Regions from separate parts of the Homo sapiens genome. Here region 1 is linked to region 2. A link means that fine-mapping ties the variant in region 2 to the expression of a gene that starts in the linked region. Tissue or cell type: whole blood. Region 2 holds a variant in brackets; the other region holds the start of a gene. All regions are shown on one strand. Distances are from middle to middle.

What was found. PIP is the estimated chance that this variant, and not a neighbour inherited with it, causes the effect.
Region 1: it holds the start of PTGES, and the variant in region 2 is fine-mapped to the expression of PTGES in whole blood (TOPMed, PIP above 0.99).

What each region holds. Positions count from the first base shown.
Region 1 is chr9:129,748,227-129,756,324 of GRCh38, reverse strand. It overlaps PTGES (prostaglandin E synthase), which reads left to right and starts at 3,283. Exons shown (of 3, transcript NM_004878.5): 1 at 3,283-3,438; 2 at 7,588-7,670. The coding sequence starts at 3,313.
Region 2 is chr9:129,772,875-129,780,975 of GRCh38, reverse strand. No RefSeq gene overlaps it. Among named protein-coding and RNA genes, the nearest start is that of PTGES, 24 kb to the right of the region's middle. RefSeq lists enhancers at 3,512-3,806, 3,437-3,952, 5,344-5,910. The variant C/T (reference allele first, on the strand shown) is at 3,545.

The DNA.
Region 1 (8,098 bases), 25 kb after region 2:
TTCCTATCTTGAGATCATGTCCATCAGTTATACGAATTCCCCTACACAGTCTCTCCCCTATTTTCGGCTCAGGGTAGCGGGAGGTGATCGTCTGCTCTTTGCCCCAAGCTGGTTTTCCCAGCCTCTGCTTTCTATCTTGTTATTTCAGAAGACCAGTCAGGGAAGAGCCACTCTCCCTAGTCCAAGGAGGACAACCAAAGGGCCCCTCCTGGGCTGTGTCTGGTCCACGATTCTGGGGGTGGTACAGCCACCAGACCCCAACCTCATAGCTGAGCTTTTTGACAAGGAAGGTAGCTACCTGCAGGGGTTCCCACGGGCTGGGGGCGAGAGAGGCAGGGATTCTCTCTTCTCCGACAGAAATATCAGCCAGAAGCGAGCTTGCACAGCTCCTCCAACAGACAACCAGAGATAAAACGTGTCTCAGGGCATCTTGTACTTTCCATGTTCCGTCCCTGATGGTATGGTGACCTATCATTTATCTTGTGGGGCCGGGACAGCCTGGCCTGGCAGTTCCCCACGGGAGTCAGTTTATCAAGCACATCTTTTGTTCGGATAAAGGACTGCTTGGCACACAGCAAATGGGCAAGGCACCACCCCCACCTTGCTCACACCCACCTCCCCCAGCAACAAGGGCAGGGATTTCTATGAGTCTCCCTCCTGACAACCCTACTAGGTAGGGATCATTATTCCCTTTGAGCAGGAGGAAACGGAAGCTCAGAGGATGATACTGAACGGAGTGCCTACTTGTTCCAGGGGCTTCATAATTATTTAGCTCCCACAACTGCGCTGGGGAGTGACTTAGGGTCAGCTGCATTTTACAGCTGAGGAAACTGGTTCAGAGGAGGAACCTGCCTGCCTAAGGCCACACAGCTACAGCTGAGGGCTGGCTTTGGGATTCGAGGCTGGCTAAATCTAGCTCTGGCCAATCTTCCCTTTGATCTCTGCTGCTTTGGGGCATAGGTTGGACTGACACAGCTGTCTCTCTGGGCAGGTGCTGTCCCAAAGCACCTGGTCAAGCCCAAGAGTGAAGTAGGCATGGGAGACTGGTTTCTCCCTTTCCCCTTTGCCCCACTTCCCCAGGGCACCTCTCAGCAAAGCCAAATATGTTGGCGAAAATAAATGAGCAAGAACCGTGTACAAGATCCCTGCCCTTGGCCAGGTGCGGTGGCTCATGCCTGTAATCCCAGCACTTTGGGAGGCCGAGGTGGGTGGATCACAAGGTCAAGAGATTGAGACCATCCTGGCCAACATGGTGAAACCCCGTCTCTACTAAAAATACAAAAATTATCTGGGCGTGGTGGTGGGCACCTGTAGTCCTAGCTACTTGGGAGGCGGAGGCAGGAGAATTGCTTGAACCTGGAGGTGGAGGTTGCAGTGAGCAGAGATCACGCCATTGCACTCCAGCCTGGGTGATAGAGCAGGAGTCTGTCTCACAAGAAAAAAAAAAAAAGATCCCTGACCTTGTGGAGGTCCTGCCAGAACCCGGGGAAGCGGGCAGGATGCAGCAAGGTGAGGATTTTTTTTGAGACAGAGTCTCGGTCTGTCGCCCAGGCTGGAGTACAGTGGTGCAATCTTGGCTCACTGCACCTCCACCTCCCAGGTTGAAGCGATTCTCCCGCCTCAGCCTCCCAAGTAGCTGGGATTACAGGTGTCTGCCATCACATCTGGCTAATTTTTGTATTTTTAGTAGAGAGGGGATTTCACCACGTTGGCCAGGCTGGTCTCGAACTTCTGACCTCAGATAATCTGCCCCCCTCGGCCTCCCAAAGTGCTGGGATTACATGTGTGAGCCACCTGGCCAAGGTGAGGATTTTGAGGTGAGGGATTCAAAGAATCTTAGAAAACAAACGTTGATGCTTTCTTTCTTTTTTGAGACAGGGTCTTGCTCTGTCACCCAGGCTAGAGTGCAGTGGTGAGAACATGGCTCACTGCAGCCTCAGCCTCCTGGGTTCAGGTGATCCTCCCACTTCAGCCTCCTGAGTAGCTGGGAATACAGGCGAGCACCACCATGCCCAGCTAATTAAAACATTTTTTTGTAGAGACGGAGTCTCCCTATGTTGCCCAGGCTGGTCTTGAACTTCTGACTTCAGGTAATCTGTCCCCCTTGGCCTCCCAAGGGGCTGGAATTACAGGTGTGAGCCACCGCGCCCGGCCTGGTGATGCTTTCTACTGAAGAGTCAGTTGATAGGTCTTTCGGGGAGATCTTGTGATGAAGAATCAAAGCATTTGACTGGGGAAAGAGTTCCAGGATAGTCAAGTGATGCTCAGGAAGTCAGTGGAGCCACGTGCTGGTTCCCCATCCCTGCTATAGCAAATTACCACAGACTTAGTGGCTTAAAACAACACAGCTTCATTCTCTGACAGTTCTGGTGGATGAAGCCTGAAATGGGTCTCACAGGGCTAAAATCAAAGTGTCGGGAGGGCTGCGTTCTGTCTGAACGCAGAGAGTTTGTTTCGTCCCCTTTTCCAGTTTCTAGAGGCCCCTGGTATTCCTTGGGCCATGATCTCTCCTTCATCTTCAAGGCCAGCAGGTTAGCGTCTCTCCTGTCTGACCCCTATTCTGTCCTTTCATCTCCTCTCTTAATGCTGCCTCTGTTTTTATATCTTTTCTCTAATTTTACTGCCTCCCTCTTGGAAGGGCCCCTCTGTATACTCTGGGCTCACCCAGATAAACTAGGATAATTTCTCCCATCTCAAATCCTTACGAAATCCCATGTGAAAAGTCCCTTTTGCCACATAGTCACAGTCACGGGTTCTAGGGATTGGGACATGGATGTCTTTAGGGGTGGAGGGCGTCCTTCAGCCTGCCACAGATGGCAAAGTCATGCCATTGTGGCTGCAGCTCCATTGTCCAGGCTGAGTGTGGGGGCGCATGGCGTGGTTCTCATGCCCACCACCTACCCTGACCCTGCGGAGGTGGGCAGGAGGCAGCGATAATCACCACGTGCAGAGGTCCTGCCAGGTGCCCAGCCTCATCATTCCCTAGAAGGCAGGCACCACCACATGCTCCCACACTGTAGATAAGGAAACAGCTTTGAAACAGATTTGAAAGTGTTTGAGGATTTGCCTGGAAGGAGGGCTCCAGAGCCAGGGACTGGGTCCGGGACACCCGGAGACTCTCTGCTTCTTGGAGCTCCGGCAACTGCTTGTCTTTCTCTTCACAGGAGAAGGGGGCCCTGCTGCCGCTGCCGTGGGGCGGGGCGTGGGCGGTGCTGGCTGCAGGAAGGCTCTCCCCTCCCACTTTGTGCTTTCCCTGCAGGCTGCTCCTCTGTCGAGCTGATCACACCCACAGTTGAGCTGCGCTGGCCAGAGATGCCTGCCCACAGCCTGGTGATGAGCAGCCCGGCCCTCCCGGCCTTCCTGCTCTGCAGCACGCTGCTGGTCATCAAGATGTACGTGGTGGCCATCATCACGGGCCAAGTGAGGCTGCGGAAGAAGGTATGTGCCTCCCTGGGGGTCCCCGGCCTGGGTCATACTTGCTTCTCTCCACGTCCTGTCAGGAAAGCCCCGGGATAGGGAAACATGGCCAAGGTGTGTGCAGGGCTGGGAGGTGAGCACCTCTTCCAGCCCCGCCGGGGGGCTTCCTGCCAGTCCCACGTGTCAGCAAGGCCTGCACCTTCTCCTCTCTGGCTTAAGAGCACTTACTCGCTTGCCGTGCCACCGGGCTGAGTTCTTGGCATGGAGAGAGCCAGCGAGTGTCTGTGAGAGAAGCAGGTTCTGGAGGGTGGAGTGTGGGAGCGTGACAGCACAAAGCCTCTGTCTAACCTGGTGGCTTCCCGGCACGGGAGGTCTGATATCTGGGTGGAGTGGGAACCGGCAAAACAGGAGTCCGAGAAACGTTTAAGTGGAAATTCCCAACTCCTGGCAAATGTCACTAACAAGCCCACTGTAGCCTCCAAAGGCCAGCTCCCAGCCGGGCACCGTCGGGGTGCTCAGCGAGGAATTTCCCCACTAATCCGAGCCCCTGAACCAAAACAACATTAACGAGTCCCAGAGCTGGGCCGGGGCAAGTTCCAGTAGCGTCCGTCACACTGGTTGGCGAGTCTGCAAAGTCATAGGCTGAGCTTGTCGGCTGTCCTGGCGGCAGAATGCAGAAAGACCCCAGGCACCTGTTACTTCCTCCCCAGGTATTTTAATAAAGCAATCATTTCCTGAAACTGTCTCTGTCTTCCCCTGTGTCCAGTTCAAAGGCGAGGTGAGGCAAGGCTGGCTCTGGCACTGCATGCGGGTGGATCCTGGGGAGTGAGGATCTTGGCCACAAGCCAGGCTCAGGCCCTGCTGCAGGTACAGGCAGGATTAAAGGCAGGGCAGCTGCCCAAGTGATAGGATGCCCGGAGGCTACAGCACACTGATAGCTTCTGACTTCTCCCTGCCTTGGCTGGTCCTGGGATATGGGATCCGGGCATCAAGTAGAACAGCTGCATTCACTCATTGAATCCTTCCCAGAGGACCGAATGTGGCCCGGAGCTGAGCATGAGATCCCCGCCACAGCCCTGAGGGCAGGGGAGGCGCCATAGTCATCCTGTTTTCTAGGTGAGGAACCTGGGCTCAGAGAGGAGACATCACTTATGAAGGTCACACAGCCCGGTTTGAACTCCAGTGTCCAGCTTCAGAGCCCACATCCTGTCTTGGAGGCGGGGGTTTCTGTTTTGTTTTTTTTTTCTGCTGTCCAGGCTGGAGTGCAGCGGCATGATCTCTGCTTACTGCAACCTCCACCTCCTGGGTTCAAGCAATTCTACTGCCTCAGCCTCCCCGGTAGCTGGCATTACAGACACACACCACCATGCCCTGCTAATTTTTGTATTTTTAGTAGAGATGGGGTTTCACCATGTTGGCCAGGCTGGTCTTGAACCCCTGACCTCAGGTGATCCACCCGCCTCAGCCTCCCAAAGTGTTGGAATTACAGGCGTGAGCCACCGCACCTGGCTGAGGCCTGGGTTCTTACCAGCAGGCCAGCGATTCCTTTTTTTTTTTTTTTTTTAATTATTATTTATTTATTTTAGAGACAGGGTCTTGCTCTGTGGCCCAGGCTGGAGTGCAATTGTGCGATCATAGCTCACTGTAGCCTCGACTTCCTGGGCTCAGGTGATCCTCCCACTTCAGCCTCCCAAGTAGCTGGGACTATAGGTGTGCGTCACTGCTCCTAATTTTTTATGTTTTTGGTAGAGATGGCTTTTGCCATGTTGCCCAGGCTGGTCTCAAACTCCTGGGCTCAAGTGATCCTCCCATCTTGGCCTCCTGGAGTTCTGGGATTACAGGTGTGAGCCACTGTGCCCAGCTGTGATTTCCTTTTAACACGAATTCGGGGAAGGGAGGAGGTGAACCTGTCCCAGAGCCTTTCTGCCTGATTGGCAGGGACACCGCAGAAGGAAACCCCCACTCCTTGGGCTGCTCCTGAGGTGTTCCTCATGACAACGTGGCCCCCTCTTATCTCTGCTCTGGGCGCTAAGTATCATCCAGGAAGGACTTGCTGGAGGTGACAGTCACAGGCCCTGGCTCCTCCACCCACCAGCCTGGGGACCTGGAAAAGTCTGGGAGCTCAGTGTCCTCACCTGTAAACGGGGGTCGTGACAGCAGCGCCAGGAGAATGCAACGCCCCACCAATGTTTGTCCTTAAGACTTATAAGTAACTGAAATTAACATGAGCATCGCAGCCTCAGGTCACTTTCAAGGGACCTCAACCAAAGGCTGGCCTCCACCCCAGCTAAGGTGGCACCTCGGCCGCTGACACTGGGGGCTTCCTGGCCTGCACTGCAGCTGGCTCTGGCCTGGCTGACTTGTATCTGAGTTGTATCTCCAGGGGGAGCAACTCCATGGGCAGTGGACTCCTAAAGGCAGTGCCCACTGTATGCTGAGGCCCCTTGAAACGTATCACAGATCCACGGACAGAGCCTTCGGTGTTGGTGATTCACTGATTTCAGGGCCAGCAGAGAGGAATTTTGGGTGTGAAGGTTCCAATCTCGAAGATCTGAGCTGCATTCTCCTCTGGGGTAGGGCAGGGCAGGCCCACCAGGGAGGACAAACCAGCCCTTGGGGGACAGTCATGAGTCAGAAGCACAGGATTTGCCGTCAGCTGAACAATTTAGAAAACCTGCTCCTGAGATTCAGGCTCTGCTGTGGGCCTGGTGGGGTCTGACTGTCTGGATGCCAGCAGGGAACAGTGGAGCAAGAGTCATGGGCCTCTGATGATCTCAGTGTGACTTTATGTCTCTGCTTTCCAATGAGAGAAAGTGACAATTCACTGAGCACCTCCTTGTGCTGGGCATTGTCCTAGCGGCTTCTCCAGGTCTCCCTCTCACTCGTCACACAGCACATGAGCTGTGATTTCTCCTGAGTTTTCAGAGTTCAGGATCCTGTGGTTAATCAGCGCGGAGCTGGGTTTTCAGCCTGGGGCTCTCAAGACCTTCTCATGGCTTTTAGTGCAAAGTCCAAATTCTTCAGGTGCTGCCAGGACCCCTGATGACCCCTGTCCCTTTATCTTGGGCCCCTGTCCCTTGCCCTCTGTGCTCCCGTGTGCTGGTTTTCTGTTCTTCACACATGCCCAGCTTCTTCCAGCCTCAGGGCCTTTGCACGTGCTGTCCCTTCTGCCTTGAATGTTGTTGCTCCAGCCCTCCCTTCATCTGGTTAATGTCAATGCATCTTTCAAGCCTCAGATTGTTTGTTTTATTTTTTTTGGAGACAGAGTCTGGCTCTGTTGCCCAGGCTGGAGTGCAGTGGCAAGATCACGGCTCATTGTAGCCTCGACCTCCCAGGCTCAAGCAATCCTCCTGCCTCAGCCCTCCTGCCAAGTAGCTGGGACCACAGGTGTGTATCACCACACACAGCTAATTTTTGTATTTTTTATAGAGGGGGTTTCATCATGTTGCCCAGGCTGGTCTTGAACTCCTGAGCTCAAGTGATCCAACTGCCTCGGCCTCCCAAAGTGCTGAGATTACAGACATCAGCCACTGTACCCAGCTTGTTTGTTTGTTTTAGAGATGGGGTCTTGCTATGTTGCCCGGGTTGGTCTCAAACTCCTGGAAGCTCAAGCAATCCTCCTATCTTGGCTTCCCAAAGTGCTTGGCTCACAGGCGTGAGCCACCACACCTGGCTTGTTTTAGAGATGGGGTCTTGCTATGTTGCCCAGGCTGGTTTTGAACTCCTGGGCTCAAGCAATCCCCCTGCCTTGGCCTTCCGAAGTGCTGGGATTACTGGTGTGAGCCACCTCATCCAGCCCTAAGCCTCAGCTTTCATGTCACTGCCTCAGAGAAACTTTCTCAGAGCCTCAGACTGGGTCAGGTCCCACGTAAACATTCTCAAGGCCAGCCGTGCCTTCTTCTTAACAGGTGAGACACCCTGGCCTTCCCTGGTTCATAGGCAACTCCCCCATCGGACTGTGAGCTTCATAAAAGCAGAGACAGGGGGGCCTTTTCATGGTGAGCTACCAGCCCCTGGCACAGGGTAGGAATCGTGGATGATGGTTGGATGGGTGTGTGTGCAACTGCACCTCTGTCCTGCCACTGTGAACTCTGGTCATGGACAAAACATAGCCCCAGGTGACTGGGCCGTTTGTCTCACGAGGAGTGACTCTCAACTGGTATATTTCAGGCCTTTGCCAACCCCGAGGATGCCCTGAGACACGGAGGCCCCCAGTATTGCAGGAGCGACCCCGACGTGGAACGCTGCCTCAGGCAAGTACTTCGGGCCCCTGGCCTGGCCACACCTGGCCATGGCCTGCCCTTTCAGAACTTCTTCTGCACACAGGGGACTTGGAGGACTCCCAGGGGCTGAGGTTTTCTGTGTTCCTGATCTTCTCTGACTGTTTTACTTTATTCAATGATTTAATTTCAAATGAACTTTGGAAAAGTAAGACGTGGTCATGACTCATAATTACAAAGTGAGAAAGGTGGTGACTTCAGTGAACATTCAGTCTCCCTCCTACCTCTGACCTCCAGGCACTACGCAGTTCTACTGGCCAGGGGCAAACACTCCTGCCAATGGCCATGCATCTTCCCACAGAGATTTGCTGCATTTACAAACATGTGTGCCACGCTTTTCCCGTTCTGCCCCATAGAATCACCCTTTATCCTCTGGTCTGTACTATGCTTTTTTTTTTTTT
Region 2 (8,101 bases):
CAGGTGTGAGCCACACCACACCTGGCCTCTCTTTTTTGTTTTTTTTAACTGACCTATTTCAAAGCACTTTGCAGACATTTTTAAATGTCACCCCTACACCCTTCATCATGTATCTCCTAAGATTAAGGAGAGCTCTTCCAAAACCACAATACCCATACCGTCTTGCTTTGCTTTTCATTTCTTTTTCGAGATGGGATCTCATTCTGTCACCCAGACTGGAGTGCAGTGGCGCAATCTCAGCTCACTGCAACCTCCGCCTCCCAGGTTCAAACAATTCTCCTGCCTCAGCCTCTCGAGTAGCTGGGATTACAGGCACCTGCCACCATGCCTAGCTAATTTTTGTATTTTTAGTAGAGACAGGGTTTCGCCATGTTGGCCAGGCTGGTCTCCAACTCCTGACTTCAGGTAATCCACGTGCCTAGGCCTCCCAAAGTGCTGGGATTACAGGCGTGAGCCACCACGCCCAACCTGTTTTGTTTTTTAAATTCAAGATCTAATCAAGGATTAAACCTTGCATTTCGTTGTCTTGGGAAGCCAGAACCCAGACTGAATTGAATCCAGGTTAATGAACATTGCTAGCCCATGTGAAAACTTGCACAGGCCAGGCGCCTGGGGAAAGTGCAGTGCACCCTGAATCTCATTTAATCCTCAGAACGTTCTGCTAGGTGCCACTGCCCACATTTTATGGAGAGAGGTGGTGTCCTCCAGGCTGGAGTGCAATGGTGCAATCTCAGCTCACTGCAACTTCTGCCTCCTGGGTTCGAGATTCTCACTCCTCAGCCTCCTGAGCAGCTGGGATTACAGGCATGGGCCACCACGCTCAGCCAATTTTTGTGTTTTTAGTAGAGATGGGATTTCGCCATATTGTCCAGGCTGGTCTCGAATTCCTGACCTCAGGTGATCCGCCCGCCTCAGCATCCCAAAGTGCTGGGATTACAGGCCACCGCGCCTGATCCTAAATAATCATTTTTAAAATCAATCAATCCTTCCTTCCTCCTTCCTCCCTCCCCTGCCTTCCTTCTTTCCTTTCTTTCTTTCTTCCTTCCTTTCTTTCTCTTTCTTTCTTTCTCTTTTCTTTCTTTCTTTCCTCTTTCTTTCTTCTTTCTTTCTCTTTCTTTCTGTCTTTTCCTTCCCTCCCTCCCTCCTTCCCTCCCTCCTCCTTCCCTTCTTTCCTTCCTCTCTCCCTCTTTCTTTCTTTCTTCTTTCTCTGTCTTTTCCTTCCCTCCCTCCCTCCTTCTCTCTCTTTTTCCTTTCTTTCTTTCTTTCTTTCTTTCTTTCTGTCTGTCTCTTTTCCTTCCCTCTCTCCTTCCCTTCTTTCCTTCCTTCCTTTCTTTCTTCCTTCCTTCTTTCCTTCCTCTCTCCCTCTCTCTCTCTTTTTTCTTTCTTTCTTCTTTCTTTTTCTTTCTTTGTCTTTTCCCTGGCGCCTGGTGGCAGGCGCCTGTAATCCCAGCTACTTGGGAGGCTGAAGCAGGCGAACTGCTTGAACCCAGGAGGTGGAGGTTGCAGTGAGCTGAGATCGCACCACTGCACTCCAGCCGGGCGACAAGAGCAAAACTCCATCTCAATAAATAAATACATACATACATACATACATACATACATACATACATACATACATGTATACATACATACTATTGGAATCTAGCATGGAGGTTGCCACCCCCTTTTGCTGGTGTGGGGTGCAGTTCTGAGAGGCAGGGCAGACACCCATTGGGGCCTTTTGCTAAGGACCGAATTGTGTCCCCCTAGAATTTGTGCGTCAAACTCCAAATCCCCAATGTGATGGCGTTGGAGATTGGGGCCTTTCGGAGGTGATTAGGGTTTGATAAGGTCATGAGGGTGGGGCCCTCAAGATTGGATCAGTACCCTTATAAAAAGAGACACCAGGGAACTTCCTTCTACTCTCTCTCACCATGTAAGGACACAGTGAGAAGGCACCTGGATCTTGGACTTCCCAGTCTCCACAAACATAAGAAATAAATTCCTGTTGTTTAAGCACCCAATCTGTGGCATTTTATTTATTTATTTATTTATTTTAGAGCCAAGGTCTTGTTTTGTCACCTGGGCTGGAGTGCAGTGGTACCATCATGGCTCCCTGCAGCCTCAAACGGCTGGGCTCAGGGCATCCTCCTGCTTCAGCATCCCAAGTGGCTGGGACTACAGGTGCATGCCACCACGCTTAGCTATTTTTTTTTTTTTTTTAGAGATGGGGTCTTGCTATGTTGTCCAGGCTGGTCCTGAACTCCTGGGTTCAAGTGATCCTTCTGCCTCAGGCTTCCAAAGTGCTGAGATTACAGGTGTGAGTCATCACACCTGGCAATGGCATTTTATTATGGCAGCCTGAGCTGACTAAGGTAGACAGCAGGGAAAGAAGCTTCCATGCATTCCTCTTTGGGGAATCTGAACTTTCCAAGGCCTGCCTCCCTCCTCTGCAGGACGCTGGAACATGTTCAGTGATAGGTGGGCCTGAGGCTGTGCATCCCATGTCCCCAGAGCCTCTCTGTTGCTAGAAAATGTTCTTTCTTTCCTTGTGATTAAGGAGAAATCTGCCTTCCTGGGCCTCTCCACCCCTGGGGCCTGTCTCTACTACTCTACTATTTGGGTTTCTAGAACCCTCCCATCTCCTTTGGAGACATCCTCTTTCTTTTTTCTTTTCTTTTCTTTTTTTTTTTTTTGAGACAGATTCTTGCTCTGTCACCCAGGCTGGAGGGCAGTGGCACGATCTCAGCTCACTGCAACCTCCGCCTCCCAGGTTCAAGCGATTCTCCTGCCTCAGCCTCCCGAGTAGCTGGGATTGCAGGTGCCGGCCACCACGCCCAGCTAATTTTTTGTATTTTTAGTACAGATGGGGTTTCACCATGTTGGCCAAGCTGGTCTCGAACCTCTGACCTCATGTGATCCTCCCGCCTAGGCCTCCGAAAGTGCTGGGATTACAGGCGTGAGCCACCTCGCCCAGCCTCAGCCTTTCTCCTAATCATCACCTTGCCCTGGGCGGGTCCTAACTGCCGGGAGCCCCCAGCAAGCCTCATCTTAACAAGCCAGAACATAGCCCACATGAGGGGATGGGGGAGTGACTGGAAGTCACTGGGCCATGGTTGCAAAGGTGGCGAATGGCAGAGGAGCTGGGACACACCCACAGGGTGTCTGACCGTGATTTTAACTGCTCTTCCACGCCTCCGTGAATGAATGAATGAATGAACACATGTTCTACTACCAGACTTTGTTTTTCAGAAATATAGCAACCCTTTGGAAAAATCATAGGTCCTGTCACTAACAAGTTGAATTTAGTTATCAAGTCACTTTCTTGGTTAGAGAAGAGGAAAGGGGAGGAGGAGATGGGAAGAGGAGGAGGGAGGAGGGAGGATGAAGAAGCTCTGACGGGACCCAGTAGTGCAAGGCAGAGGGTGTCTCCGGAGGAAGCTTCCCTTCACTGTGGCAATTTCCTGAGGCTTGGTCTTGGCTTCTCGCAGCAAACAGGGTCTTCATCTGCCCAGCATCTGAACCCTAACCGCAGAGGGTTGAGAGACAGAGGAGGGGGCCCCCA[C/T]AGGGCCTGTGGTTTGAGTGAGGAAAGCAATTGTGTAAAAGTGGAGAGCCTTTCCGCAGCCCAGGGCCAGTCCCTGCCTGAGTCATGCTAGAGAGAGAGGGAGGAGCAGGCAGGATCCTGGAGCTCCCTGGATTTCAAGCTGGCCGTGGCCTCCCGGGTGACGTCACTGCGGTCATTGCCTGATGAGCTCAGGCAGAGGCGCCTGGGGACGGGGTAAGTGGTGAGAGGGAGGGCCACGGCTGTCTTGGGTGAACCCCAGGCTCCAGTTGGAGACTCTGCTGTGGCAAGAGGTCCACCCCACCCCCGGGCGCCATCTGGGGACACTCCGGCATCCCATTCCAATGGCTGTTCTGCCAGGGCCTCACCCTGGCTCTTGGTCTTAGGACTGCTGTGTTTGCCTGCCTAGGTGTGCGGGTCAATCTGTGCAGAGCTGGGGAGCAAGTGATCACTGGGAGCAAAGACAGCTTTCAGCCTGGAGGGAGAAGCATTTCTTCCCGCTAGGATAATGGCCAATTCAGAGGCCCTAGACCATGCTGTCCCCAGAGCCTGGGTGCATTGCTGATGACGAGATCCCAGCCGGGGGTCAGGCCTCCCAGGACTGTCAAGCTGGGCTGCTTGAGTCCCTGGCTCCAGGGGTGGGGGTGGGGCTGAATGGCAAGGGAGAGAGCTGGTCCATTCCAGGCTCCAACCTCAGAACCCTCTGGGAGTAAGATTACCCAGCCCTGTGCTCGGGCTGAGCAATCAACTATAGCGCACACGCTCCTTTACTGTGGTTCCGAGATAGTTAATTGAAATCTGGATACTCTGGGTAAAGTCAGAACATCCAGCTGGGCCCAGCATGGGAGATCAGCTTGATGAGTCTCCCGCACCCTATTCTGGGCATCAGCAGAGTCAGTTCTCTGAAGAGTCTTTTTCATATATATCACATAGATAGAGAGATAGGCAGGTTGGTAGGTAGGTAGATAGGTCAATAGGTAGGTAGGTAGGTAGTTAGACATAGGTATCTATCTATCTATCTATCTATCTATCTATCTATCTATCTATCTATCTATCTATCTATCTTACTGTAGTTTAGCACAGACATTGGTTAAGTCATGTCACTCCTCTGAACCTCAATTTTCTCATCTCTAAAATGGGGATATTAGGCCGGGCGAGGTAGCTCATGCCTGTAATCCCAGCACTTTGGGAGGCCAAGGCAGGTGGATCACCTGAGGTCAGGAGTTCAAAACCAGCCTGGCAAACATGGTGAAACCCTGTCTCTACTAAAAAATACAAAAAAAATTAGCCAGGTGTGGTGGCACGCACCTGAAGTCCCAGCTACTCGGGAGGCTGAGGCAGGAGAATTGCTTGAGACTGGGAGCCAGAGGTTGCAGTGAGCCAAGATCACACCATTGCACTCCAGCCTGGGTGACAGAGCAAGACTCTGCCTCTAAAAAATATAAAATAAAATAAAATAAAATAGAGATAATAATAGACCCACCTCCTAGGATTGCTACATGAGGGCAATGAACTGATCTACATAAAGCACCAAGCATAGTGTCTGGCAGGTAAAGTTGGCCAGTAATGTCATCAACATTGTTATATAATAATAATTATTGTCATTAATTTTATTGCCCAACTGGCGTCCCAGCCTGAGCTGAAGCTCTGTCTCTTGGCCACCCTGTCCAGGAGGTATGAGCCTGTTTTCTTGGGCCAGATCTTCTGCTTGGCTTGAAGCCAAAGTGTGACTTCCCAACCTCTGCATGCAGCCCCCTCCCCAGGGTGCTGGTTGGTCTCTCCTCTCAGCTGCTGCTGCAATGTGCTTCACAGTGACAACACACCCACAGCTCCAGTGGCAGTTGATGCATCCTTGTGGCCAGAATCATGCCTGGCAGGACGCATGTGGCAAAGGGCTTGTCTGGGTCGGTGCTATGCTCTCTGTGCCAGGGAAAATCCAGCTCTTGGAGTGGGTGAGAGCAGGGAGGCCTTCATGGTGGTGGAGTTAGGGGATGGGAGAGACAGGGAAGCAATGAGGGGCTTGCACAGAAAATATCGTTTTACCCTAAGTACCCAGATGACAAATGAGACCCAAAATGACCTTTGGCAGGGGCCGTGGCTTCTGGGGACCCCAGCGTTTGACAGAGCAGGTGGCAGAGCCGCAGGACCCAGCTCTAGTGTGTGGCAGTTTGTTGGTTTCATTGCCGTTGCTGGGCCAGACGTGCACTGAGGACCCCGGGATAAAGGGGTTTACTGTGAGGATGCTGGGGCCCAAGACCTCGTGGGCACAGGACCCAGGTGAAGACCCCAGGGCCCGTGAAGAGCCGAAGTGGATTTCACTGTAGGGGCTTCTTGTCATCCCCAGGGGTACACATTCTTGTGGCCGCTCCTGCTGCTGGCAGCCGAGTCCTTGGCCACGAGCCCAGCCTCCTCTGGGGGGTGGGTCTCAGCCCAGGCCCACATCGGGCTGTTGATTTCATTGGCTGCTGGCTGGCCTCGCCATTGGCTGCTTGCAGCCAGGTGCTCACCCCTGCCCATCAGCTGTGGCCATGGTGGTGCCAGCAGGGAGAGGAGCATGTGACTTGCACGTGAGGAGTAGCCGAAGGCTTCTTCCCTAGGGGACATGTGTCTACCTCGGGGCGATGCGTCTACCTGTGGATGGGGAGGGACCCCTTATTGGGGCCCAGGCAGGTCCGCATTCTGGGCCTTGTCCAGTACACCCTCTGGTTTCCAACCAGCCAACCAGGCTCCTGGGGGACCCACCAACCCTCCCCTTTCTTCTCCGTACTTCTCTCCTCACCTGGTAGACACACATGTCTTCATTTTGGTTCTTACGTTGAGAGACAAACCCATCCTTCCCTCCCTTTCTTCCTTCCTCCCTCCCTCCCTCCCTCCCTCCCTTCCTTCTCTCTCCCCTTCCTTCCTTCCTTTCTTTCTTTCTTTCTTTCTTTCTTTCTTTCTTTCTTTCTTTGTTTCTTTCTTTCTTTCCTTCCTTCCTTCTTTCTTTCTTTCTTTGTTGGTTTCTTTCTTTCTTTGTTTCTTTCCTTCCTTCTTTGTTTGTTTGTTTCTTTGTTTCTTTCTTTCTTTCTTTTTTCTTCCTTTCTTTCTTTCTCTCTGTCTCTCTTTCTCTCTTTCTTTTCTTTCTTTCTTGCACCTAGGTTGGAGTGCAGTGGCATGATCATGGCTCACTGCAGCCTCGACCTCCCAGCCTCAAGTGATCCTCCCTCCTCAGCCTCCTAAGTAGCTAGGACCACAGACATACACCACCATGCCTGGCTATTTTTTTTTTTTTTAACTTTTTGTAGAGACAAGATCTCCCTGTATTGCCCAGGCTGGTCTCAGACTCCTAAGGCTCAAGTGATCCTCCTGCCTCGATCTCCCAAAGTGCTGAGATTACAGGCATGAGCCACTGCACCCAGCCTGAGACAATGCTTTCTCTACCAGTCTCTACCCCATTGCACTAATAGTCAGTGGAAGGCTGCAGACCTTCACACGTGAGTCCCTGGCCCTGGGCCTCAGGCAGGGTTTGCTGGGTGTATGTTTACCCAATAGTTGTGGGAAAGTGGGTGCTGACCTCACCGGGTGCGGAGGACAGGGTGTTAAGCGGCTCCCACAAAACACTCCCTCCTCCTCGGGCTATGTTGGCAGAAGCACATCTAACCCTGGCGACCCAAGGTCATGAGGGGGATGAGTTAACTTCCTTGTGTGTCCTAAGCGGCTGCTGTGTATTTGTTGACTGTCTCAGAGTAAATGTGGTTGGTTTACTCACTTTCTACCCCTTTTAGCTGGTGGGACTGGTTAAAAGCTTGTCCTCTGCATAAAAGCTTTGCCTCTGGGATTAGCCTGGCCTGGTTGAGTCTCAGTTGTTGAAATAACAACAGCAATACCAATAGCAGTGATAGCTTACATGTAACACCAGGTATGATTTCCTACCTGGACTATCTCAGTAATCCTAGGAGGAAGGTCTATTATCATGTCCATTTTAGAGAAGGAAGAAGTGAGGCTCAGTATGGTGCTCAGCTAGGAAGCAGTAGAGCCTGGTGGTAACCAGGCAGGGGCTCAGAGCTTCTCTCCTTCCTGCTCCTTAGCTGATGGGCCATCGTGGGCAGGTTACTTGGCCTCTCCAGGACTCGGATTCCCCTTGTCTGCAAATGGGTCAAGAAAGTTTAATGTGGCTGGGTGCGGTGGCTCACACCTGTAATCCCAGCACTTTGGGAGGCCGAGGTGGGTGGATCATGAGATCAAGAGATCGAGACCATCCTGGCCAACATGGTGAAACCCTGTCTCTACTAAAAATACAAAAATTAGCCAGGTGTGGTGGCGCACGCCTGTAGTCCCAGCTGCTTAGGAGGCTGAGGGAAGAGAATCACTTGAACCTGGGAGGCGGAGGTTGCAGTGAGCCAACATCATACCACTGCACTCCAGCATGGTGACAGAGCCAGACTCTGTCTAAAAAAAAAAAAGGTTTAATGTGGCAGGGTACGCTGATTCACGCCTGTAATCCCTGCACTTTGGGAGGCCAAGGTGGGTGGATCACTTGAGGTGAGAGTTCGAGACTAGCCTGGCCAGCATAGTGAAACG